Linked DNA regions of Homo sapiens. The protein of the gene in region 1 purifies or fractionates together with the protein of each later gene. This does not show direct contact. Each region holds a gene or a part of one and is shown on either strand. Other genes may lie near its edges.

Region 1 (3,500 bases):
CCTCGCAATGTATTTTCATACCTTCTCTAATAAATCTGCCTTTTGTAATAAAAAAGAAAAGGTACAGTTTGTGCCTTTCATACAACTTGGCCCCTAAATGCAAACCATTTTTATCCCATCTGCTGCTTAAGCAAAGGAAACAGTGATGTGTTCCAACTCTGGAGGCAAAGCTGGCTGTTCGACTCCCCCAGATGGTCCTGTACTGTACTTTCTGGGCGAGTGGAGGCATTTCAAGAGTGACTTTGACTAGCCTTGACTTTTTACCAGACTGGGTAAGTTTGGAGCCTGCCCCTGGCTGAGATGTCGTGGTGCTGTGCTGAGTGTTCAGCTGTGCCACCACGCTCAGTGGGTGCCAGTGACCCCGGGCACAACAGACAGACCCCCACCCTGGAGGAGCTGCAGCCTGCTCAGGGAGCCAGGGCAGGAGTGAAGGAAGCCGAGTGGCTGTGGGAAATCAGAAAGGGGTTGGGGAGTAATGTCAGGATGAAGTCCAGCTTCTTCATGTGGCTTCTAAGGGCCTCTCCCCAGTCAGCTGGAGCCACTCCTGGCACCAACCATAGTGTTATTGAATTTATTTCTTTTTTTGAGACAGAGTCTTGCTCGGTTGCCCAGGCTGGAGTGCAGTGGCGCGATCTCAACTCACTGTAACCTCCACCTCCCAGGTTCGAGCGATTCTCCTGCCTTAGCCTTCCGAGTGGCTGAGTGGCTGTGATTATAGGCGCGCACCACCATGTCCAGCTGATTTTTGTATTTTTAGTAGAGATGGTGTTTCACTATGTTGGCCAGGCTGGTCTTGAACTCCTGACCTCAAATGATCCACCCACCTCAGCCTCCCAAAGTGCTGGGATTATAGACGTGAGCCACTGTGCCCGGCCTGAGGAGCTGAGTCTTAGAGGAACCCAGGGTGGGTGGGTTTGTTCTGGTGAGGGGGTGTGCAGGCCGGGTTCTGGCCCCCAATACCCACTTGGGGATAGGCAGGACAGCTCCTTGTCAACCCCAAGGAGGCAGCGCCTTTCCTGAGCTGTCAGGGCAGCACCATATGGTTCCTTTCTTTTCCTTTCCTTCACCTCCTCTACCCTGGTGGCAGGGAAGCTGCTGGTGTAGCCACACGCGGGTGCTGTGTTCTGTGATCGTACTGTTGCGCCATTGTTCGGATTGGCTCTGTGCAGTAGGAGTCACTCTCCCCATTTGATGGAGGTTCAGTGAGGTTCATGGCTTGCCCTCAGCACTTGGCTTAAAACTGGAAGCGTCCCCGGGCCCGTGTGAAGCGGGAGCCAGCTCCTGTCCCACTGCATTAGGTGGTCTGCCTTTAGGTGATGGCTACAGGTCTCAAATCTTCAGCCAGGTTGGGACCTCCTGGGACTCCAGGATCTCCACCTGCTTCAGGACCCCTTTCTCATCTCTTGGCAGCTGGTGTCTCGCCACCCAGAAAGGGCCTTGCACCCTGTTCCCCGCCGTCTGTAGCACCCACTCCAGTGGAACCAGAAGATGTGGCTCAGGTAGGCAGATACCTGGAGAGGTGGGAGGGCCAGGGGTGGAGGGGGCGAGTTATGTGGACGACTATCATTGCAGTGACTGGGTCATGTGAGGAAGTTAGCCCTGACAGTGTTCAGAGGGTGCTTGTTCTCTGTCCCTGCCCTATTGGCTTTGGGAACAGGTGTCCCTGACTGGGGCAGTGAGGCATGGGTCAGGAGGCCAGTCCCGTTCTATGGGCAGGGAGCCCTACCTCCTTCTCCAGGACTCAGGTGGGGTCAGGAGATGCCAGCTCTGGCAAGGGGAGAGAGGGCAGTCCACAATGCTGACTTCACCATCATGGGACTGTCAGGAGTTACACACGTAGTAAAGCAAAGATTCCCCTTGATTCCTGTGGAGACAGCTGTAAACTTCCCGGCTTGATTTCCTTTAATCCTCTCAACAACCCAGGGAGGTCAGCATTATGGGCCCTGGTATACAGATGAGGAAACTGAGGCTCAGTGAGGTTTAGTCATTTGTCCAAGGTTACTTAGTAAGGAAGTGGGGGCCAACTGCCAGTCACCTGTTTGAAGGGCTTAGAGGAAGTGACACCAGCCCTTCACATCTGGACGGCACCTTACAGTGTGTAAAGGGCCTTCCCCTCCTGCTCCCATCTGCTCTTTGCTGGAGGGAGCTAGCCCCAGGGTGGGTGCTCCATGAGGGTACATGGGGCTGAGGCTGGCAGGGGTTATACAGTTTCATTCTGCAGGTGGGACCCAAGCCCACACTTGAGCAGCTTGCTCAGGTTCACTGTGCTTGGATGTAGAGAAACTGGGATTTAAATCCGTGGCAGTTCTAGGAGAGAACAGAAAAGGCAGCTGAGGTCGGCCTGGGAGGACAGGAACCTGTCAGGGGGGCTCCCCCGCAAAGGGGAGGAGGAGGGGGCAGGAGCCGCCAAGGGGAAGGGGCTGCACAGCCAGGAGCTGCCTTCCTTTGGGGAGGGAAGCCTCAGAAACCGGAAGTCAGGATTTTCGTGTTTCCGCACTGGCTCAGTGACCTTGAACAAGGCTTTCCTCCGTTCTGGGCTTTGGCTTCCTCACCTGGGAGACAGTGGCAGCCTCCTGCCCTCTGCCCCTCCTGGGGCCCTGATGAAGTCCATTTCCACCACGAAGCCTGGTGCACACTTGAGTGACGGTGGCCGTTGGAGGGAGGGAGAGGGCAGTGATGTGAACAGGATGGCTGGTGACCATGTCCTGCTCCCAACCTCCCCCACCTCGTTCTCTGCAGGGCGAGGAGCTCTCCTCAGGCAGCCTGTCAGAGCAGGGCACCGGCCAGACCCCCAGCAGCACGTGCGCAGCCTGCCAGCAGCATGTGCACTTGGTGCAGCGCTACCTGGCTGACGGCAGGCTGTACCATCGCCACTGCTTCCGGTGAGTGGCCAGGGCCGCGTGTTACCCCCGAAACCAGGGAGGGGGCTACCGTGGGTTCAGCACACACAGTGCGCCAGGCACCTTGCCAGGCCCTTCACACCAGAGCCCCTGGCTTATCCCCATTTTACTGATGAGCAAACCAAGGCTTAGTGAGGGGAAAAGCAGTTGCTCAGCCACATGATTCGAGACAGAAACAGGGTTAGAGCACAGGGGTTTTCCTTCCAGCGCCTACGCTTTTTGAGGATAACTACTGGATGAGGATGAAGGAGCACTTTAAAAGCCACGTGTACTTTAAAAGCCATTGAAAATTAGCCGGGCATGGTGGTGCACACCTCTAATCCCAGCTACTCGAGAGGCTGAGGCAGGAGAATCGCTCAAACCCGGGAGGCAGAGGTTACAGGAAGCCGAGATCGTGCTACTGCATTCCAGCCTGGGTGACAGAGCGAGACTCTGTCTCAAAAAAAAAAAAAAAAAAAAGGCCATTGAAAAAATAAAATGAAATATTTTAGCTTAAAAAATTTTTTTTTGGCCGGGTATGGTGGCTCACGCCTGTAATCCCAGCACTTTGGGAGGCCGAGACAGGTGGATCACCCTGAGGTCAGGAGTTTGAGACCAGCC
Region 2 (3,500 bases), on another chromosome or scaffold:
AGGAAGAAGCTTAAATGAGTGTAATTATGATGTATCAATATTGAAATGCTGTTTTTTTATTTTTTTTCTAAATTCATTCCATCATCAAAGGTATTGATAACAGAACATGGCGACTTGGGAAATGGAAAGTTTTTGGATCCAAAGAACAGAATCTGTTTTAAATTTGATCACTTAAGGAAGGAGGCAACTGATCCAAGACCCTGTGAAGTAGAAAATGCAGTTGAATCATGGAGAACTTCAGTAGAAACTGCTCTGAGAGCTTACGTAAAAGAACATTACCCGAATGGAGTCTGCACTGTAAGTCATCAGTAGCAGCTTTGTGTGTGTGTTTTGTGTAAATGTGAGTCTTTAGCGTCTCTTAAAATTTACAGTAACTTACAGAATTGACATTGTATAATTTGTCATTTTTTTCCTTAAATATTTCTAAGAATGTTTACTATTTTTTCAAGAAATTCTGGATAATAAATAGATATACTAGGATGGCTTAAAATAGAGAAATGGTTGTACCTTGATTTAAATCCATGTAGAAATTCTAATACATTGATTAAAGGAGCAGGATATGGTGAGATTCTGTAATCTTATGTTCATGACTCGTCTCAGTTTAGATCAAAGTTATTTTTATTAAGTCACAGAAATCTTAGAACAAATAAAATTACTTGGAAGTAAAATTATGTGTTTCTGTATTTTACAGTTACATTTCTTGTGTTTTTTGTGTGGTTCTTTCGTAGGTTCAACCTATTTTTATATTTTCAAGAAATATATGGCTGGGCACAGTGGCTCACGCCTGTAATCCCAGCACTTTGGGAGGCCGAGGCAGGTGGATCACCTGAGATCAGGAGTTCGAGACCTGCCTGGCCAGCATGGTGAAACCCTGTCTCTACTTAAAAAAAAAAAAAAAAAAAACAATTAGCCGGGCGTGGTAGCACGTGCCTGTAGTCCCAGCTACTCGGGAGGCTGAGGCAGAATTGCTTGAACCCAGGAGGCAGAGGTTGCAGTGAGCCGAGATTGCGCCACTCCACTCCAGCCCAGTCAACAGAGTGAGACTCTGTCTCAAAAAAAAAAAAAAGAAAAGAAAAAAAAGAAATACAAAATATGGTAGTAGGAATACATTTCTTTTTTAAAAATTTCATAATATTATTTGTACCCTGACAGGCTTTTTTAGCACCCCCAGTTTGTGCTTCAGTGGCCTTTTCCATTGCCAGAGTGATCTTTTGAAATGCAAATCAGGTCATTAAAATTCCCTGCTTGAAATCCTTCAGAGATTTCCCGTTGCCTGGACTTAAGAGTCCAGGCTTTTGAAGGTGGCTTAAAGGCCCTGTGACCACGTGGCCTCTGCTTACCCCTCCAACCTAACTCTACCATATATCCTAGTTTATACCTGCTTTCTCAATGTAATTATTAATATCACCAGTAGCGTACCCCATTTCTTTCTTGGAAGTTTCCTGGTTAGGACAAAAATTCATATGGTCTGCTTAAGTATCTAGCTCTCTGATTATTTGAGAAATATTGCAACATAACCTCAAATATCTTATGTATTACTTGAATTATAACTTGTTCATCAGGATTATTTTGGAGGAATAACGAGAGTTAAGGGAGTACTTGTTAGAGAGTCCTCATTTATTCTAGAGGATTGAAAGGCACAAATTAATTATTATTTTTAAAGCAGTAGGCAAGAGGTGAAATAGCATTGTGATACATCACAGGCATTCTCTTAACGACCTTTCTCACTTATAAGTAAGTTAATTTATTCCAGTACTTTTAAGTGACTAAAGAAACAGCAGCCCCTAAGATTGTGAAGTGAACAAAGGTGATAATCACAAGCTAGGTCCAGTTTTCACTTGCATGGAAAAAGCTAGATTAGCATCTGTATGTTTAAAATAAATTATCTACTTATGAAAGTAGATTATCTAGAATGTTCGTGAATATTTCAGAGTACAATTAATTTTAATGAATTGTATTTTATTTAGTGTCCCCTTTTGTGGTCCACTAATAATTTGATTACGCATAAATATTTGAGAACATGTTTTTCTAGCTACTATATTGGAATGATGGCCTACTTTGTATTTTATGTGTTCTTGTCAAAGTACTGTACAATTTGCAGTATTTTATAGATTTTTAAAGTTGGACATTCCATGGCCCTAAATTCATTCTTATGCTTATTTTCTTTGCCAATAAGGTGTATGGCAAAAAAATAGATGGACAGCAAACCATTATTGCATGCATAGAAAGCCATCAGTTCCAAGCAAAAAATTTTTGGTAAGTTAAAATTTTGGATATTGGGGAGTTTTGGCATTGTTTTAAGTCTTTGTAGTTCTTGCTTTAGTGATTTGGGCTACACCTTGTTTGTTTATGATTAAGAACAATTTAGAGATGGTATAAAATTTTAGCCTTTTGATATAAGGAAGGTAAATTTGCTCAACAGCCTAATCACTAAAGGTAGTGGTAAATCTGTTGACATTCAGTGGAAAGAGTATGGGACTAGCAAACAGCATCCTGAGGGAGCATGTGTGCCTGCGAGAACACCAGTTGGCAATCCATATGCTCATTCTGTGAAGGGGCTGTTCCTGAATGAAACTTATGTGCAGGAGAACAAAGATAATTATAGAACAAAAAATGATACTACTTTTGTGAACTTTGTGACTCTGAAGTAGAGGATTGCTTTGTACTTGGTTAGCCAATGTGAGGAAATAATGACATGTTTTATACAATGAGGAAGATTACATTCATGCCTTGTAATTTTGTGTACAAATAATTCCATTATTCCTTATAAACTTCAAGCCCTCAGGAGCACTGATTTACCATACTGGTCTTGGACCTTTGACAAGTTGTTGGTCATTTTTATTCTTAGACAAGACTATTTCTGAGTACCTGTTACAAAATTCTGAGGTTCTTTAAGACTTTACAAGTCCATAATTGAATGAAATCTTTACGTTTATCCCTGTTTTACATGCTGAGGTCACCAGAATAAGTATGGTCATAATATTTACCTTTTAGTATATTAGCCTTTGACTTACTAGCCAAGTTGGTTGGTGGTGCTATTAAGGGTAAAGTAACAGGTAACCCCTGTGGGCCAGTTGGGTTCATGGCCCAAGGTTGCTCCACTGCTTAGCCATCTCAGAAATAAATGCAGGGTTGCAAGGTTAACCAAGAATATTTGGAGGAATGCAGATCCATCATCACTGAAGGAAAATCAATGCCATATGTGAATGTATGCCTTAATGACTAGCCACAGTTCCCTAAAGGTTCTGTCATATAGAGTTACTTTTATGGACTTAATATAAGTGTAGTTTCTCTGTGTTGGGTCTAAAATCTTGTAGCATTAATCTAGAATCCTGAAACAATATTTATAAAATTATTACTAATTTATGTTATTTATGCCAGGAAACACATAATAAAATCAATCTTGTTGAGATGGAGCTACTATTAGAAGAAAATTCTTTTTACTACGTTCTTCTTTATAATACATTGGAGCTGTTACAATAAGCTTACTAATTTGTCTT
Region 3 (3,500 bases), on another chromosome or scaffold:
ACCTACACCAGAATACAGCAACTCAAAAGCAGGCAATTCAACATGAGGTAACTGTAGCTGAGCCCCAGAGCAGCTGTACACACAAGAGGAAAATATGGTACGTGATCTAAGAAGTTACGTCTCACTTTTGAATTGACCTTCCACACAGTCGAAAAGATTAGACCTACCCCCACAGGATGCCACAGAGGGTTTCCCAAGCCAAAGTACAAGCAAAAGTCTAGGCAAAACACAGCTTGCCTCTAATGAGTGACACGGACTGTAGAAGCAGCTGAATCCCAGGAATGACCCATGAGCTCCTCTTGGGTTTACACTGCAAGAGAGCTGAGTCACTCAACATGCCCTGAGATAAATGGGTGCAGCGATAAGAAGGATCAACATCCCAGCTCTTCTTTGAAACACATCAAGAAACACATGAAAATTCAAGGGTTACCCAGCCAGAGCTGTTCTGCTGCTCAGGTGGACCTAGCAGGCTTGAGTCAAACTCCAAAGATCTGCTTTTCGTCAAAAGACAAATAACAAGTATAAAAAACTGAGAACCAGATGCACTGAAGTTTATAGCAGAGCCCAGGGGAACATACAGAGAGAAGAGAAGGCCAAGTACCAAAACACTCACATTTAACAGCTGGTATGGAAGCCAGAAAAGGAGGAAGAACTAAGCTTGCCAGAGTGTCATGGAAGCCAAAGCAAAAACGAGTTATGAGACAATCCTGTGGTCAGTATTGCCAAATAGTCCCATGAGGCCCTGCAGGTAAGGACAGAGAAAAGACTATTGGATTTAGCAGCCAGGGAGAGGTTGAGCAGTAGGACCCAGCGGGCAGAGGATACAGGGTAGAGACTAAGGAAATGGAGGCCATGGCTGGTGACCACGCACTTGAGAAAACCTGGCAGTAAACAAGAGAAAAGAAATGAGTAAGAGGGAGCATCTGGCAAACATGTGTTCAAGGCAGAGGCCTGTGTTTACAGCACAATGTAGGAGCTGGAGAGGAGAGGAAATAAAGATGCATGAGAGAGAATAATGACAGGCTCTCTCCACTTTCTGAATGATGTCAGACTCCTAAGGTTGGGACACCTTGTTCTCAAAGAGAAGACATTTGACTTAGGGGATAGGTTGGAAAAGTACTTCTATTATGGATCAGGCAGTGACATGCAAAGAAACTGAAATCCAAATAGGTGAAGTAATGTACCCAAGGTCACCAGAGAGCCTGTGTCCCTCAACATCAAAATGGCCTGCCTTGAAAGCCCACCCTTTCCACCATGCCATCAACTCCACTCCCACTGGAAACAGGGACTGTTTCAATCACCCCACGCCCACCTTGTTCTCTAATCAAAACAAGAAAAGATATCAACACTGAATTACCCAAGTCACTATTATACTGAATTTTCACATTTGCAAAACCGTTTACAAGAATCCAGAGTTTATTTGTTTGTTTGCTCATTTATTTATTTATTTTGAGACAGGGTCTCACTCTGTTGCCCAGTCCGGAGTATAGAGGCGTGATCACAGCTCACTGTAAACTCAACCTCCTGGGCTCAAGCGATCCTCCTGCCTCAGCCTCTGAAAGCGCTGGGATTACAAGCATGGGCTACCACGTCTTGCCCAGAGTTTTAAAAATATATAAAAACAGGCCAAAGCCACCCAGCTTATCCATTTTCCAGGACTGCCTCACTCTACTTAACTATGCATCAAGCACTTACGATTCTCTGGGCATCCTGCACTTGACTAAGGACCATGAGGGTATAGAAGAGACAGTCATGTCTCCTGTCCTCAAGGAACTTGTGCTGAGCAAATCTCTACTGCTCTATGTCTTACATTCCCCATAGATAAAATGGCCCATCTTCTCCCATGTGCCTCATGAATAACCTATACAATTTGATTCAAGGAAAAATCAAGATCCCTTAGCACTTCATTTAGAAAGGCCAGGGTGCATCCACTGAGCAGGGAAAAAGAGAAATAGGCTCAAGGTTGATCCAGAGACAGTGGGTCTCATTATTTCCTTTCCATCCTGATTCCACAGGGGCAGAAAACAAGGGCAGCACTCCCTCACTCATAAGATCACTCATTTGGACAATTCAGATGCCCTGCAACCATAGGCCTCAATCCTACCAAATGCCCAGCTAAGGCTTAAGGCTATTTACCCCAAGAGAGTCACCAGACAGCGTAGAGCCATGTCAGGCTGAGGCCGGCAGTTTTAGCTGCAGACAGGCACATGTGCCCTCATCAATATTTGAACAGCCATATGCAACTGGAAAAATTGCTTCTTTGAAAAATGGCATTTAGCTTGCCACCTGCTGTCGATCCCAAACAGAACAAATCATTCTTGTCCTGCATGGTAAGCATGATTACAGGCTCAGCTAGCTACCTCCAGCCCTGGTATTCTACTCTGACGCCAAGAGTCCAGATAATACAGTTAATTCTACATCTCCTAGTTAGTGAGTCAAGACATAGCCATAATCTCCTCCTGGCTCCCACCCCTCCCTAGCCTTTCCCTGCACTTTCAAGAGGCTATTTCTACATCTATAGTCTTCTTTCACTGGGCATTGGTAGCACAGCTAAATAATATTCTTAGAACTTTGCTGGGCCGGACGTGATAGCTCATGCCTGTAATCCTAGCACTGTGGGAGGCCGAGGCAGAGGATCCCTTGAGCCCAGGGGTTCAAGACCAGCCTAGGCAACATAAGGAGACCCTGTCTCTATTTAAAAACAAAAAACAAAAGAACTCTGCGAGTGGCACAGTACTTGGGTTTACTGTTTTGCGCCCAGGGCAAATTACTGTGAATTTTAAATTTTCTAGTTGCTAGCCCATGTTCATGAGAAAAGAAACATACCTTTTGACTAAGGAAAGAATTGTTAACTCAGACTATTTTACTAATGATCCCAATGGTCATGCTGGTTGAGTCTCCATCCCCATATGATTAATCTAAGCTGATAATATAAATCCCATTCTCCTTTCCAGCCATTGGCTTAAGAATGGTCATATGACCGAATCCTTACCAATAAAGCTTTAAGAAAAATCAGCTAGTGGGCTAGTAAGAAAAGTTTCTTCCATTCTAAAAAAGGGACACAAGAAAGAGACAACTTCTCTTCTTCCTCTGGATGTTGTCATTTTGAATGTAACCCCTGTAACTCCTATGTCCATCACACATCCAACCTGAGGATGAAAGCTGCACATGGGCAGAACCAAGGTCCATTGAGGAACTGCTGAATCAGCCAACAAGGAGCTCTATTTCTTTTTTTTTCTTTTCTTTCTTTTTTTTTTTTTTTTTTTGAGACAGAATCTCACTCTGTCACCAAGGCTGGAGTGCAGTGGCATGATCTTGGCTCACTGCAACCTCCACCCCCCAGGTTCAAGGGATTCTCCTGCCTCAGCCTCCCGAGTAGCTGGGATTACAGGCGCCCGCCACCACGCCCAGCTAATTTTTGTATTTTTAGTAGAGACAGGGTTTCACCATCTCGGCCAGGCTGCTCTTGAACTCCTGACCTTGTGATCCACCTGCCTTGG
Region 4 (4,293 bases), on another chromosome or scaffold:
ATGCTTCCACAAGGCACTCCCCAGGGCCCCCAGGGCCTGTCACCTCCTACCTGAGGCTGCAGGACTGGGGCTGTGCATCCTTGGTCACCACTGCTCACTGTCCTGGGAGGCGGTCACCCCAGGCCCTGGCCACATTCATTTAGCCAGTCCCTGCCAGACAATGGCCAGTGTCCGAGTGCTGGCTGTGTAGGGCCTGTGCGGGGGGGTGGCAGTGTGGGCACATGGCCTCTGCAGAGGTAAGGGAGGTGCAGGGGGCCGTCTGCAGCTCGGCTGCCCTCCATATCACCCTCTCCTTCCCCCGCAGGTAAGAATGACGGTTCCATCGGCGGGAAGCAGTACTTCAGGTGTAACCCTGGCTACGGGCTGCTGGTCAGGCCCAGCCGGGTCCGCAGGGCCACGGGCCCTGTGCGGCGGCGCAGCACAGGACTCCGGCTGGGTGCCCCCGAGGCCCGCCGGAGCGCCACCCTCTCGGGCTCCGCCACCAACCTGGCCTCGCTGACAGCTGCCCTGGCCAAGGCCGACAGGAGCCACAAGAACCCTGAGAACCGGAAATCCTGGGCCAGCTGAGCCGCTGCCTTAGGGCGAACTTTTCTGGGGGTGCCCGGCCCCTTTTGAGCCCTGCCAGTGACAGCCCTGAGGAGCCAGGAGCCCGGTGGCCCCTTCCCCAGGGGCAGGGCGATGAATGCTTTTTGCACGACACAGGGCTGGTGACCTCCCTGGGCCTCTGGAAGCTTTGTTTCTTCTGTACCCGGGTAAAGTGGGGGCCTCAACTGTGCCTCCTCAGGTGGATGGAAGGTTCTGGGTGCCCGCAGGGGCTGGGGGATGCTAGGACTGAGACCCTGGGTGGTGCAGCGCCTGGTGATCTTGCTGTGTGCCTGTGCCTGGGGCCTTATGTTGCTCTTTCTATCATTTCCATTCTGGTGGCCCCACTAATGTCTTAACCTAAACCATAATTGTAACCAGTGCCTTTCCTCCCCACTGGAGGGCAAGCCCCCCCACCCACCCAGGATGTCCTGGCTCACTCCGCAAGCCCCCCAGCCTCCCACCCTGGTCCCAGTTTCCCGCAAAGTGCCTCTGGGGGACCCCCCAGCCTCCCACCCTGGTCCCAGGTTCCACAAGTGCCTCTGGAGGGCCCTGGGCTCTGGCAGATGGTCCTGGTGCCCCAGACGGGGGCCGAGGGCCTGAGCCCCCCCATCCCTCCTCTGCCAGGGTTTCTTAGCGGTTTCTCTGTGGATGTTTTGGCATCTTTAGACACCTGGAAAGTCTCTTATGTTTGCCGTTTATTCCCTTCACAGAAGGCTTGGAATGTATTTATTTATATTTATTTTTTCAAAATCCGAAATCATTTGCGAGCCGCAATCGTCGTCTGCCTGTGTGGGGGGGCCCAGGGCCTGCCTTGCACGTTGCAGCCTCTCTGGCCATTGCAGAGCTGCTGGCCTCCTGCCCAGGTGGAGGGTCCTGGGGACGGCAGAGGATAAAGCCCCCTCCTCACATCCCTCTATTGCGGATCCACAGTGGCCTTACTCTTAACTTGGATGAGAGCAAAAACCTGGGAGAATGATGTGCTTCTGTAGTCGGTGACAAAGGAAGAGGCATTGCTACTTTATTTGGTGCACTTTTGGTTTCTAGGAAGGTCTTTGGGTCATTTTAACTTCTCGGCAACTCCCAGACTCTCAGAGTGTGGGGCTGGGGCCTGGCGGCTGGGCTGGTGCAGGGAGTGTGCTGGTTAGTCTCCAGACCCTCACAGCAGCCACGCCCCCAGGCCCACCGTGCATGGTGTGGGCGGGACAGCCGGAAGCTTCCGGGGTGGCCTCCACCTCCTGGCTGGGGCACTTATGCTCCCAGAGCCTTTGGTGCCAGGTTTGTGGGATGGGGGTTAGCGTCTATGTGTGGAAGGCCACCAATCTAGGGACAGGAGTCCTGGGTCAAGATTCACACAGCCACCCTTGGAGCTGGTTTCTAGTTCTCACATTTAGTCAACATCTAGAAAGCGCTGCGGAAGGCTCTGGTTCTCTAGGGACTTGAAGGCGCCAACAGAGTAGTCTCCATGGTGGGCCTGTCCCAGCCCTGGCTGCGAGGACAGGTTGTCTTTCTCTCCCCAGTTGGCGAGGGACACGAAGGCTGCGGCCGGGCTGGCAGAGGGCCCGGCCCCTGGGGGGAGGCACTCCTCCAGGGCTCTCCCTGTCCTTAGCCGATTTTGAGGGAACCCTGTGGCACCTGTCCCTGGATGAAGAGCTGTCACCTCTGCCTTGCCCTTTAACTCAACCCGCTTCCCAGCACAGCGGCTTTCTTTTTAAAACCTGTTTCACTGAGAAGTTTGTTTTTGGGTCCGCTGGTGTCACTATGGCCTGGGTGAGAGGCCAGCACTGCTGCTGCCCTGAGGGGAAACGCCTGGGCCGTGTAGTGGGGACGCTCTGGGAATGGTGGCGGACGGGCAGCGTGGGTGGGACCTGGCACTTCGTGGTGGCTGAGCCATCCACCCAGCAGCGGCCTCCTGTAGCACCATCTTGGGAAAGTCCTGGGGGACGTGTGTGTCGTGCTTTTTACCATCGGTTTGACTTACAGTGGAGTAGAACGAGCCAGAGTTCCTGACTTGAGCAGGTGGATTTGGGCCCAGGCCCTGTTCACTCTTGCTTCTCGGTGCGGACTAATGTCAGCTTGTGGCTGGGAAAGAGGGATGTGCAGTGACGTGGTCACCAAGGCAGTGAGCCCCGCTGACCCCGGGCCAGCACTTGGCAGGCAGGAGGTGCGGTCTCCAGAGTGGTGGGCCAGGGCGGGCTGGCCTCCGTCTTCTATCTTCTTTTCTTGCCTCCCTGACCAGCAGACTCACCTCCCAAGAACGCCTGCCCGCCCACCCGCCTTAGGACTCCCGATGCGCTCCTGGAAGGCCCCAGGAGTGGCACCTTAGTGTGGGTCGGCCCGCAGATGGCACCCAAGGCCGGGAAGGGCAGTAACTGCACACGCGGCGCTGTCAGAGATGGGGGTGGGGGATGCTTCTGGGGGCCCTGCCTCCCCATTGTGTGCCCAGAACATCCCTGGCCCCACCCCGCCACTTCCCTCGGGCCCTTATGAAGGACTGAGGCTCCAGGGTGAGAAGGCTCACTTCTGCCCCGGGCACTGCGTCCAGCAGCAGAGGGGACAGGGGGCAGGTGTGTGACTGGGTTCCTGGGTACCCAGGCCTGACCAGAGGGAGCGGGAGGGCAGAGGTGAGGAGGGGGAAGATGTTTCTGGGCCTACCAAGGTTCAACAAGAGAACGGAGCTGGGAATGTGACTGCTGGAGCCTGAGAGGTGGAGGAGTTCTGATCCCCCGTTACTTCCTAGCATTTTCTCCTCTTGCCTTAAAAGTTCCCTGTATGTGAAACGGGAAGTCCTGAGAGTGTGTGTTGGTGGCTGTGCGCACGCACACAAGACGGGAGTCACCCTGTGCTTCCTGCCCAAGATACTGACCCATTGAACCCCCAAAGCATCTTTCTCTCCACAAAGTCCGTGGTGCCTTCCTGGTGGGCTGCAGACACTAATGGTGTTGGGGGGTCTTGGAACAGCTTCTCTATGTGTGGATTCGTGTAAATGCGAAGAGTTCACATATAAAGAAGTGACTTTGATTCTGTGATTATATTGATTTGGTACACAGTAAATGGGAGTTTAAAAAATCCAAAGACTCTAATGACTTGTAAAGACTCTAATGATTTGTATCATGTAATGAACTAAACCACCTGTAATTTTGTACCGTATGTGTCTTTCCATCAAATGACCAACAGCTTCTCAATAAAACCAGACCATTTCTCACCTGCATCATGTCTGAGGCCAGTCTTGTTGCTTCTCCTTCCCCTCACCCCAACATAGGGTTTTGGGGCTCCTGGCAGGCCATCCTGTCATGGTGTGGCCTTGTTCTCAGCAAAGGTGGTGCGGGGCTTTTCCAGACTGAGACTGGGAGGAGGAGGATCAGGGAACAGCAGCAGGCCGTGCTCGCCTCCCCAGCCCATGGACTTCAGAGGCTGAACTCTTCATGATTTGGACTTAAGAGCCCAGGAGGCCCCCCGGTTCTGAGTCATCTTTCCTTGTTTGGACTTCAGCCCCTTACTGAAGCCAGGAACCATGGAAACTTTCTGGGGCCCTTCGACCCCAGGTAAGTGGTGCTACTGGGAGACAGGTGACCTGGTAGGGACTCTCCTTGGCTCTCAGGCATGACTCCACTGTCTGCTGTGACCTTCGTGTTGGTCCCCACACTGGACCTCCCCTCTCCCCTCAAACTGGGGTGAGAGGACTTCTTTCCCCTGCTGCAGAGGTGGGCA
Region 5 (3,500 bases), on another chromosome or scaffold:
TAAAAACTGCAATTACTTTTGCACCAACTGAATATCTTTAGGCCGGGCGTGGTGGTTCACACCCAGTAATCCCAGCACTTTGAATGGCCAAAGCAGGAGGATTGCTTGGGCTCAGGAATTTGAGACTAGCCTGGGCAACATGGTAAAACCCTATCTTTACAAAAAATACAAAACTTAGCCGGGTGTGATGGTGCATGGCCATAGTCCCAGCTATTAGGGAGGCTGAGGTGGGAGGATCACTTGAGCTTGGGAAGCGGAGGTTGCCGTGAACTGAGCTCACGCCACTGCACTCCAGCCTGGGCGACAGAATGAGACTCTGTCTCAAAAAAAAAAAAAAAAAGCATCTTTAGAGATCCTAAAATGTAAAATTTTGTTCTTCTGTAGTTTTTCCCTTGACTTGTCATTTAAAAAAAAATAAAATTGCTATTTATGGGCATGGTGGCGAGTGCCTGTAATCCCAGCTACTTGGGAGGCTGAGCCAGGAGGAACGCTTGAACCCAGGAGGTGAAGGTTGCGGTGAGCCAAGATTGCACCATTGCACTCCAGCCTAGGCAACAAGAGTAAAACTCTGTCTCAAAAAAAAAATTTTTTTTTCTATTTAATGTAATTCTACATAAAGAAAAATTAAGTTTAAATTATTAGCATAAATTTTATAGTTATTTCTATATTGTAGAATATAATGTTTTAAATGTGAATATCAGTGCATTTACCTCATATGCTAGGAGTTGCCACCACCATGCCCCACTCCAAGACACCATAGAGCACAAGCACCTGTATCCATGCCCCCCTGGGCAGCAGGGAGGAGCAGGGAGCCCAGGCAGGGCTTAGGGCTCCAGGAGGCTGGGAGTGGGCAGTTAAGAACCTGGTCCTCCGAGGCAGGGAGTGGGGACCAGGCATGAGTCCTTCAGAAGGTTACCTCTGGAGATAATGCCAAGTATCAAGGGTGTGTGTTTTGTATTCAGCAACCCATTTTTTAGTCTGAAATCAAAGGGAGTTGGAGAGTGAAGGATGAACCAAATGTGACAGATGTTCAGTTGGGGATTTTGTAGACACCAGGCCTAGAAGGCCCTTAGGAAAGCCAGTGAATACTGGACAGCCCAGGAGGCTGCCCTTAATTATGACCTCACCCAACCGACAGTCTTCTGGGCCACCCCTAGGAAGGAGTCTGTCCTGTCTTCTATATTTTCCTCCCTAGATAAATGTTGAACTTCATGGCAGTGAAATTTATCTTGTAGAATGTCAAACCTATTGATTCACTTATATATCATCTTCCTTTTTTTTTTTTTTTGAGACTGAGTCTTGCTGTGTCACCCAGGCTGGAGTGCAGTGGCGGCATCTCGGCTCACTGCACCTCTGCTTCCCGGGTTCAAGCGATTCTTCCACCTCAGCCTCCTGAGTAGCTGGGACTACAGGCATGCGCCACCATGCCTGGCTATTTTTTTGTATTTTTAGTACAGATGGGGTTTCACCATGTTAGCCAAGCTGGCCTTGAACTCCTAACCTCAGGCAATCCGCCTGCCTTGGCCTCCCAGAGTGCTAGGATTACAGGTGTGAGCCACCGTGCCTGGACGTTTTTTTTTTTTTTTTAGATGGAGTTTCATTCTTGTTGCCCAGGCTGGAGTGCAGTGGTGTGATCTCGGCTCACTGCAACCTCCGCTTCCCTTGTAGCTGGTGTTACAGGCGCCCACCACCATGCCCGGGTAATTTAGTAGAGACGGGGTTTCACATGTTGGTCAGGCTGGTCTTGAACTCCTGACCTCAGGCTGTCCACCCGCCTTGGCTTCCTAAAGTGCTGGGATTACAGGCATGAGCCACCATGCCCAGCCTTATTTGTCATCCTTCTTATTGAGATGTTGCTGGGAACAGCAGTCCCAGAAACTTTATTTCAAACCTGGGGGTAATAGTCCCACAAAGAATTTCTGGGAAACTAGCAGCTTACATATATACTAAAATAGAAATTCTGAACCCCCTCATTGAAGGTTAAGAAAGGTTTTCCCAGCTTGGCAAGTTTTGGCAGAATCCCATGCTTTATATTTCACTTCCTGGTTGCATTTTCAAGGGTAAAAACTGGTTCATGGATTTAAACGTTAGGTTCTGTGGGAAAGGAAAAACAGTGAGTGTTGTTTAGAAAGCGAAAGGAAGGATTAGGAGCCATGATTTATACCACATCTCCAAAAAGAAACTTCTTTAAGGAAACGTCTTTAAGAAAAATGGTTGCAAGTTGCTTTTTAAGGCTCTTTACCCATGAGAGGAGTGTGTTTTAGAGATAGGACAGATGCTGGGTTGGGAAGAGGTGTTTTCATGTGATGAGGGTGGGTGTAGGTTTCTTGTGCCTTGATGGCACCCTCTCCATTCTCTCTCTCTCTCTTTCTTTTTTTGTTTTGAGACAGAGTTTTGCTCTGTCACCTAGGCTAGACTGCAGTGGCATGATCTCAGCTCACTGCAACCTCTGCCTCCTGGGTTCAAGCAATTCTCTTGCCTCAGCCTCCTGGGTAGCTGGGATTACAGACACCCACCACCACGCCTGGCTAATTTTTGTATCTTTAGTAGAGACGGGGTTTCACCATGTTGGCCAGGCTGGTCTCAAACTCCTGACCTCAAGTAATCTGCCCACCTTGGCCTCCTGGAAGTGCTGGGATTACAGGCGTGGGCCACCGGGCCCAGCCTCCATTCTCTTTTGATGTCTATGGGAGTAAATTTGGTGCTTCCTAAATTGAGAACTTTGGAAAAAAATTAAGACAGCACTTTAAACAGAAACGTGTGCAGGGGCAGGGAGATGCCAGTTTACCCCCCCCGTTAAGTCTGAGGTGACAGAGGGCTGTAGGAAGACTGCTTGTTGGCTTTTCAGCCTCAATATGTGGAATATTTGGCAATTCAGTGAGGTACCTGCTCTTGTTTTCTATCTTCAGAGGACAGCACAGGTTTGAATCTCTTTGCTCAGTGTAAGACAGCATCATCTCAGCAAACTGGCAGGTATCTTAAGTAAATATTGGCAGAGGGAAAAACACGGAGGAATATGGTTGTATTTGCCTGTTGTTTTTAAATGGCTGTCAAAACATTTGCTTTTCAATTTTCTGAAATGAGAAATATTTTGAGTTAATGTTTTATCATTTACAGAGTATTTCACGAACATTCTCTGGTTTGTCCCATAATTATTGCATTTTTTTAGTGCGGGAATTTGGGCTCAGAGGGGTAAAGTGACTTCTCTAAAGTTGTATACTGGGCTGGGCATGGTGACTCATGCTTGTAATCCCAGCACTTTGGGAGGCCGAGGTGGGCAGATCACCTGAGGTCAGAAGTTTAAGACAAGCTTGGCCAATGTGGTGAAACCTCATCTCTACTAAAAATACAAAAATTAGCTGGGTATGGTGGTGCGTGCCTGTAATCCCAGCTACTCGGGAGGCTGAGGTAGGAGAATCACTTGAACCCAGGAGGCAGAGGTTACAGTGAACTGAGATTGCGCCATTGCACTCCAGCCTGGGCGACAAGAGTGAAACAGT
Region 6 (3,500 bases), on another chromosome or scaffold:
GTCAGACCTCATAATTCTTAGGCCTCATAAAGTTTACACTTCCTAATTAAATTTGGCATGTTAATAAAACCCAGAGGAGTGTAGGGCGGAGTGCTGCTGTGGAGCTTGGCCAACCTAACAGTGCTCCTCGATTTTTTGTGTCCCTGTACACGTGTGACAGGAAATGGGGAATGTTTTAGGAAGCCCAGGCACACTGGGCTGTCTAGTCCTGAAGCAGTATCACCTTAATGCTTAAAGGTGATTCCATAAATTAGCCATACGTGGTGGCGCTTGCCTGTATTCCCAGCTACTCAGGAGGCTGAGGCAGGAGAATCGCTTGAATCCAGGAGGCAGAGGTTGCAGTGAGCCAAGATTGTGCCAGTGCACTCCAGCCTGGGCAACAGAGCAAAACTCTGTCTCCAAAAAAAAAAAGAAGCAATTCTATATTGGCTGAGTGTACCTCTGGGTTTTCTTTATAGACAAGGATTGAGTGGCTATTCATTTTCTGCCACTCAATCCTTAACATTTTGCCAAAAGTTACATTTCATCAAAGCCTATTCTCAGAAGCCCCATAGATCATTTGTGGTGTGAACTTGGCCCTGTAGCTCCCTGGAATGGGTTCTCACCAGCCTGGCTCGGCGCCACTGCCTCCTCAGGGGCCCATTGATTCCTCCAGTGAAAGGGTTGGCATTTGAGAAAGTGCTTTGTGAACCGCTCAACACCGCGTAGACCCTGTTGCGCTTTAATACTTTGATCCAGCCATATTTTGCCAGTGTCTTCTGTGGGCCAGGCAGCCATTTTGGCAAGAGGGCTGCAGAAAGGACACAGGTGAGTCAAGGTGCGTGCAGGACTGGGGTACCAGCTTCTAGCAAATGTGTATTCAACCCCTGTGTGTTCAGTCACTGGAGGTAATAGCAGTGGATGAGACTTGTCAGTTCCCTGCCCCAGGGAGCTTACGTTTGAGAGGGCGAAAGTCCAGTGCTGGGGCTGGATGGATGGAATTAGCATCCCCACCCTGGGTTCAGAGAGGCCCAGCCAGGCCTGGGCCTCAAGTCTTCCCCAGCAGGCACTTGAACAAACTCCTGGTGGCAAAGGCTGGGTCTGGCTGTTTCTCATCTACATGGGCCATTATGATCTGCAAGCATTATGCCCAGGTCCATGCAGCAGATACATACATGTATGTCAGTTATGTTAATAAATAGGTAAAGGGAGAACTGATGAGGATGGTCAGAAAGGTTCCCCTGAGGAGGGAACTTGAATGGGAACCTGAACAAAGGGATAGCCAGGTAGCTACAGAAGAAAGAACTTTCCAGGGCAGGGAAGAGCAAACATCAAAGCCCCGAGTCAGGAGCATGCTTGGAATGTTGAGGAAATCGCTGTGTGGATGGTGTGGCCAGAGAGAGCAGGTCATGAGCCAGAGTGCTGAGAGGTGACCAGGTTAGGCAGGACCTTGACACACATGAGCAGCTGTTTCCACTTTATTCGAGGGAAGTGGGGCAGGGAAGCCACTGAAAGAGGCTTTAAAAAAAAATAGCTTTATGAGATAGAATTCGCATACAGTTCACCCATTTGCAGTGTACAATTCAGTGGCTTTGGGTACATTCACAGAGTTCCACAACCATCACCACAGGCAATTTGGGAACATTTTTATTATGCCAAAAAGACACCAACCCAAGGCCAGGCACGCACGGTGGCACAGTGGCTCACGCCTGTAATCCCAGTACTTTGGGAGGCTGAGGTGGGCAGATCACGAGGTCAAGAGATCGAGAACAGCCTGGCCAACATGGTGAAACCCTGTCTCTACTAAAAATAGAAAAATTAGCTGGGCATGGTGGCGCGTGCCGGCAGTCCCAGCTACTTGGGAGGCTGTGGCAGGAGAATCACTTGAACCCGGGAGGCAGAGGTTGCAGTGAGCCAAGATTGCACCACTGCACTCCAGGCTAGCCAAGATCGCACCACTGCACTCCAGGCTAGCCAAGATCGCACCACTGCACTCCAGCCTGGTGACAGAGAAACTCCATCTCAAAAAAAAAAAAAAAAAGGATACCAACCCTTCCAGTTTCCCCATGTGCCCCCCCAGCCCCAGACAACTGCTAATCAGCTTTCTGTTTCTATGAATGAGCCTATGCTGGACATGTCTGTTAATGGAATCTCACACTAAGTGACCTTTAGTGTCTGGCTTCTCTCAGCATCCTGTCTTCAAGGTTCATCCACATTGTATAGCATGGATGAGTACTCCGTTCCTTTTTATGACTGGGTCATATTCTGTTGTATGGTTGGACCACATTTTGTTCATCCATTCATCTGTTGGTGGACATACTAGAAAGTTTGGAGCAGAGGGCCGGGTGCGGTGGCTGATGCCTATAATCCCAGCACTTTGGGAGGCTGAGGCAGGCAGATCATTTGAGGTCAGGAGTTTGAGACCAGCCTGGCCAACACGGTGAAACCCCATCTCTACTAAAAACTCAAAAATTGGCCGGGCATTGTGGCAGGCACCTGTGGTCCCAGCTACTCGGGAGGCTGAGGCAGGAGAATCACTTGAACCTGGGAGACAGAGGCTGCAGTGAGCCAAGATTGTGCCACTGCACTCCAGCCTGGGCGACAGAGCGAGACTCCATCTCAAAAAAAAAAAAAGAAAGTAAGTTTGGAGCAGAGGTTAGCTGTGTAACATGGTTAGGGTTATATTTTTGAAGGCTGGGGAGGGGACTGCGGGTGAACAGTGGGAGCCTGGGGAACATCAAGGTGGCTGCGAGGTCACCGTGGGGAAAGGGGATGAAAGCGGGAGGTGAGAGACAAGGAAGATGGGGTCAGGAAGGCTTGTTAGGAGGTGATCTTCAAGGGGGCCTTAAAGGAGGAGAAGTGTGCCTAGCTGACGGGCCAGTGGGACACAGACCACCCGCAGAAAATGAATAGCATGTACAAAAGCTGGGGGCAGGAGAGAACGTGACCATGTGCATTGACGCATGGTGGGGCCTAAGGCCCTGTGTGCCTGGGGGTTGGTCAGCTGCAGGGTGTTGGGGAGCAAGGGACTCAGGCCTGCAGAGGGCTCTGTTGAGACCCACTCCGTACAACTGCCTGGGGTGGGGAGGCGGGTTCAGCTGGCAGCAAGGGACAAGAGCAGGGCTTTGCCACCCGCGCCCCCTGGGTTTGCTCTGCACTGCTCCCATCAGCTCTTGGAGAGGGAAAATATCTCCAAGTGTTTCCAGATCTGGATATTCCGACATCCTGCATGCCCAGCACCAGGCAGGGTCTCCGTAAGCCACAACAGCTGTCACCTGCACAGGTTGGTGGCGCCCAGCTCAGACACAACTTGGGAAATGGGCTGACAGTGACGTGCCTTTTTTCTTTTTTCTTTCAGGAATTGACTTTAAAATTAGGACCATAGAGCTCGATGGCAAGAGAATTAAACTGCAGATATGGTAAGAGTCATTGTTCTCTGTCATTCTCTCCACCTGGCAATGGCTTCAAGCCAGAAGCCCTTGGCCTTCTCCCTCCACCGTCCCTGTGACCTTGGCCTCCAT
Region 7 (3,500 bases), on another chromosome or scaffold:
TGGCAATCTAGGCACTTCTGGTTCTAAGATCATGACTACATAGGGCAGCAAGTCTGGACCAGGAGGAGGTCCTGTTGCTAAGAGGTCCTGTTACTGAGGCAAAGTAGATTTGTCCTGGGCAAATCTCCCCACTGCTGTGCAAGTGGGCTTTAGTTCAGGATACAGCCTTTAACAAATATTTGTTGACATCTACCACGTGTCCAAACACCTGGGGACACAGTGGTTAGCTGCTAGCCATGGTCTTTGCCCTCCAGGAGCTTATTATCTCGTAGGGGAGACAGACAGGAAATAATTACTCCAATAAATGTATAAATATAAACTGGAGTAAACCTGCTGAAGGACAACTATAGAGCGTATAACGTGGATCTGACCTGGTTTGTGGGAGGCTGATTTGTGAGAACTGACCTTGTTTGTGGGAGTGGTGGTCAGGGAAGGCTTCTCTGAAGAAGTGACATCTTTCTATGAACCAGGTGAAGCCAAAAGTGCCTGTTGGACAAAGTAGCATGTGTGAAGGATGATATTTGTTGTCAGCTTTGTGATAGTCACATGCTAAATGTTTTCATGTTTAATATCTTGTTTTTCTCTCCTTTTTATTAAATTAGAACCCAAGTTCAATAAAGTACAAACATCTTTTTTTTTTTTTTTGAGATGGAGTCCTGCTCTGTGACCCAGGCTGGCGGATCTCGGCTCACTGCAGCCTGTGCCTCTCAGGTTTAAGCAATTCTCCTGCCTCGGCCTCCCCAGTAGCTGGGATTCCAGGCGTGCACCACCACGCACAGCTAATTTTTGTATTTTTAGTAGACGTGGGGTTTCACCATGTTGGCCGGGCTGTTATTGAACTTCTGACTTCAGGTGATCTGCCTATCTCAGCCTCCCAAAGTGTTGGGATTACAGGCATGAGCCACTGCGCCTGGCCTAAATAAAGTACAAAGATCTTAAGGGTATAACTTGGTACTTTTTTATCATTGTATATGCCCATATAATTATTTATTATCTCATTCTCACAGATAATAACCTTGTGGGGTATTATCATTATACCCATTTTACAGATGAGGAAACTGAGGCACAGAAAAGTTGTGGGTTTTTTGTTGTCGTTGTTGTTTTTGAGACAGAGTCTTACTCTATTGCCCAAGCTGGAGTGCAGTGGTGCAATTACAGCTCACTGCAGCTTCAACCTCCTGGGCTCAGGTGATCCTCCTGCCTCAGCCTCCTAAGTCGCTGGGACTACAGGTGTGTACCACCATACTCGGCTAGTTTTTTGTATTTTTTGTAGAGATGGGGTTTTGCCATATTGCTCAGGCTGGTCTCAAACTCCCGAGTTCAAGTGATCCACACACCTTGGCCTCCCAAAATGCTGGGATTACAGGCGTGAGCCACCACACCAGAAAAGTTGTGATTTGCCTCAGGTTGCATACATCAGGTGAAGAGCAGAGACAGGATTCCAGACCAGATCCTGACTCTAGCCCAGTGCATTTTCTTCTACTGGATGAGTGGTTTGGAGAACTACTTTACCTGTCTGCCTTCACAAGCCTTTTAAGATGGGGTGATAAAAGTTTGGATGTGCTGTCTCCTCAGGGAGAGTGTATTGCTTTCATCATTTTCTCATGGAGTCCCAGGGCCAAAAAGATGAAGAACAATTCCTAATAAAGGGCTCTTCTCTCCCTGTTCCTTTCTCTTGAGAATTGCTGGGAATTCTAAGAATGCTCTTCTTCAGATAGACCTTCCCCACCAAGCCCTTTGTCACCTGTAGCTCTGCCTCTCCCATCCCTTCCCCTCCCTTCTCATCTCACCCTGGCTTGCTAGCACTTTACAGTCCCTGAAAGGGGCCTTGCCAAGTTTCCTTGGCCCAGAACTCCATGGGGAGGTTGAGTTGGGTATGTTTGTGTTTCTGTCTGGCACGTTAGAGGCTCATCCTCCAGTTTGGTGCTAGGCTCTGGTGGAGACTAGCAGAAGGGGTGGGGAAGCTGAATTTTTTTATTTGCTTGGAAGACAATCTCTCCCCCAAGTTCCTGGAGCCAGAGCATACCTGGAATACATTCCATTTGCTGACTCTGAGCTTTAGCAATGTGGACCTGGGAAGCTGGCCTATGGATGGTGTTGGCTCTGGCTCTCAGCTGAGACAAGTTTACCTGACCTGGGGCCCCTTAAAGTGGCACTTTTTTTTTTTTTTTTTGAGATAGAGTTTCACTCTTGTTGCCCAGGCTGGAGTGCAATGGCGTGATCTTGGGTCACTGTAACCTCCGTCTCCCAGGTTCAAGCGATTCTCCTGCCTCAGCCTCCCGAGCAGCTGGGATTACAGGCCCCCGCTACCACGCCCGGCTGATTTTGTATTTTTAGTAGAGACAGGGTTTCACCATGTTGGTCAGGCTGGTCTCAAACTCCTGACCTCAGGTGATCCACACGCCTTGGCCTCTGAAAATGCTGGGATTACAGGCGTGAGCCACCATGCCCGGCCGAGTGGCACAGTTTTTAAACCACATTTAAATATTTTTGGCTGGGTGCGTGGCTCATGCCTGTAATCCCAGCACTTTGGGAGGCTGAGGCGGGCAGATCACCTGAGGTCAGGAGTTTGAGACCAGCCTGGCCAATATGGTGAAACCCCATCTCTACTAAAAACAAAAATTAGCCGGGCATGGTGGCAGGTGCCTGTAATCCCAGCTACTCGGGAGGCTGAGGCAGGAGAATTGCTTAAACTCGGGAGGCAGAGGTTGCAGTGAACCAAGATCACGCCATTGCACTTCAGCCTGGGCAACAAGAGCAAAACTCTGTCTCAAAAAAAACACAACCTTTTCTTGAATAGATAATACATCTACGTGGTTCCAAATTCAAAAGGGACATAAGAGATATACAGTAGAATGTCCACTCCTTTCTGCTCTTCCAGAGAATAGAAACTCTCCCATCCCTGTTCCTAGTCCTCAGTTCCTCCACCTCAAAGGCATCACTGCTATCAGTGTTTTTAAGTTTCTTTCCAGAAGTGGGATGATATACTTTGAGGTCTTCTATATTTTAAATGAGCTCTGGGAGAGAAGGCCCCCTTTTCTCCAGTGAGATGGAGGTATCTGCTCAGCAGGGTGTGGGTTCTGCCTTCCCTTGGTGGGAGGAAGGGAAGAAGGCACACAGTGTTTTTTTTTTTTTTTTTTGGAGATAGAGTTTTGCTTTTGTCACCCAAGCTGGAGTGCAGTGGCGCAATCTCGGCTCACTGCAACCTCCACCTCCCGGGTTCAAGCAATTCTTCTGCTTCAGCCTCCTGAGTAGCTGGGATTACAGGCATGCGCCACCACGCCTAGCTAAGTTTTTGTATTATTAGTAGAGACAAGGTTTCACCGTGTTGGTCAGGCTGGTCTTGAACTCCTGACCTCAGGTGATCCACCTGCCTCAGCCTCCCAAAGTGCTGGGATTATAGGCATGAGCCACTGTACCTGGCCACATGGTGGTATTATATGTATGTATGAAGATCAAGTAAAATCTTTTTTTTTTTTTTTGAGACAGGGTCTCACTCT

What was found.
Region 2: the proteins of MICALL1 (region 1) and CAPZA2 purify together in Homo sapiens (affinity purification with mass spectrometry; one large-scale study listed by BioGRID and IntAct). This does not show direct contact.
Region 3: the proteins of MICALL1 (region 1) and CREB3L2 purify together in Homo sapiens (co-immunoprecipitation; one large-scale study listed by IntAct). This does not show direct contact.
Region 4: the proteins of MICALL1 (region 1) and KIF13B purify together in Homo sapiens (affinity purification with mass spectrometry, with the first as the bait; one large-scale study listed by BioGRID). This does not show direct contact.
Region 5: the proteins of MICALL1 (region 1) and PLEKHA7 purify together in Homo sapiens (co-immunoprecipitation; one large-scale study listed by IntAct). This does not show direct contact.
Region 6: the proteins of MICALL1 (region 1) and RAB8A purify together in Homo sapiens (co-immunoprecipitation; 2 studies listed by IntAct). This does not show direct contact.
Region 7: the proteins of MICALL1 (region 1) and CGN purify together in Homo sapiens (affinity purification with mass spectrometry, with the first as the bait; one large-scale study listed by BioGRID). This does not show direct contact.

The regions. Positions count from the first base shown.
Region 1 is NC_000022.11:37,916,297-37,919,796, forward strand, and holds part of MICALL1 (MICAL-like protein 1), read left to right. Parts: intron 1-1,410; coding exon 1,411-1,499; intron 1,500-2,739; coding exon 2,740-2,882; intron 2,883-3,500. UniProt on the Homo sapiens protein: Lipid-binding protein with higher affinity for phosphatidic acid, a lipid enriched in recycling endosome membranes. On endosome membranes, acts as a downstream effector of Rab proteins recruiting cytosolic proteins to regulate membrane tubulation.
Region 2 is NC_000007.14:116,904,087-116,907,586, forward strand, and holds part of CAPZA2 (F-actin-capping protein subunit alpha-2), read left to right. Parts: intron 1-90; coding exon 91-297; intron 298-2,176; coding exon 2,177-2,256; intron 2,257-3,500. UniProt on the Homo sapiens protein: F-actin-capping proteins bind in a Ca(2+)-independent manner to the fast growing ends of actin filaments (barbed end) thereby blocking the exchange of subunits at these ends.
Region 3 is NC_000007.14:137,992,087-137,995,586, forward strand, and holds part of CREB3L2 (cyclic AMP-responsive element-binding protein 3-like protein 2), read right to left. Parts: intron 1-3,500. UniProt on the Homo sapiens protein: Transcription factor involved in unfolded protein response (UPR).
Region 4 is NC_000008.11:29,066,778-29,071,070, reverse strand, and holds the end of KIF13B (kinesin-like protein KIF13B), read left to right. Parts: intron 1-304; coding exon 305-567; 3' UTR 568-3,793; downstream 3,794-4,293. UniProt on the Homo sapiens protein: Involved in reorganization of the cortical cytoskeleton. Regulates axon formation by promoting the formation of extra axons. May be functionally important for the intracellular trafficking of MAGUKs and associated protein complexes.
Region 5 is NC_000011.10:17,004,415-17,007,914, reverse strand, and holds part of PLEKHA7 (pleckstrin homology domain-containing family A member 7), read left to right. Parts: intron 1-3,500. UniProt on the Homo sapiens protein: Required for zonula adherens biogenesis and maintenance. Acts via its interaction with CAMSAP3, which anchors microtubules at their minus-ends to zonula adherens, leading to the recruitment of KIFC3 kinesin to the junctional site.
Region 6 is NC_000019.10:16,114,889-16,118,388, forward strand, and holds part of RAB8A (ras-related protein Rab-8A), read left to right. Parts: intron 1-3,337; coding exon 3,338-3,398; intron 3,399-3,500. UniProt on the Homo sapiens protein: The small GTPases Rab are key regulators of intracellular membrane trafficking, from the formation of transport vesicles to their fusion with membranes.
Region 7 is NC_000001.11:151,514,387-151,517,886, forward strand, and holds part of CGN (cingulin), read left to right. Parts: intron 1-3,500. UniProt on the Homo sapiens protein: Probably plays a role in the formation and regulation of the tight junction (TJ) paracellular permeability barrier.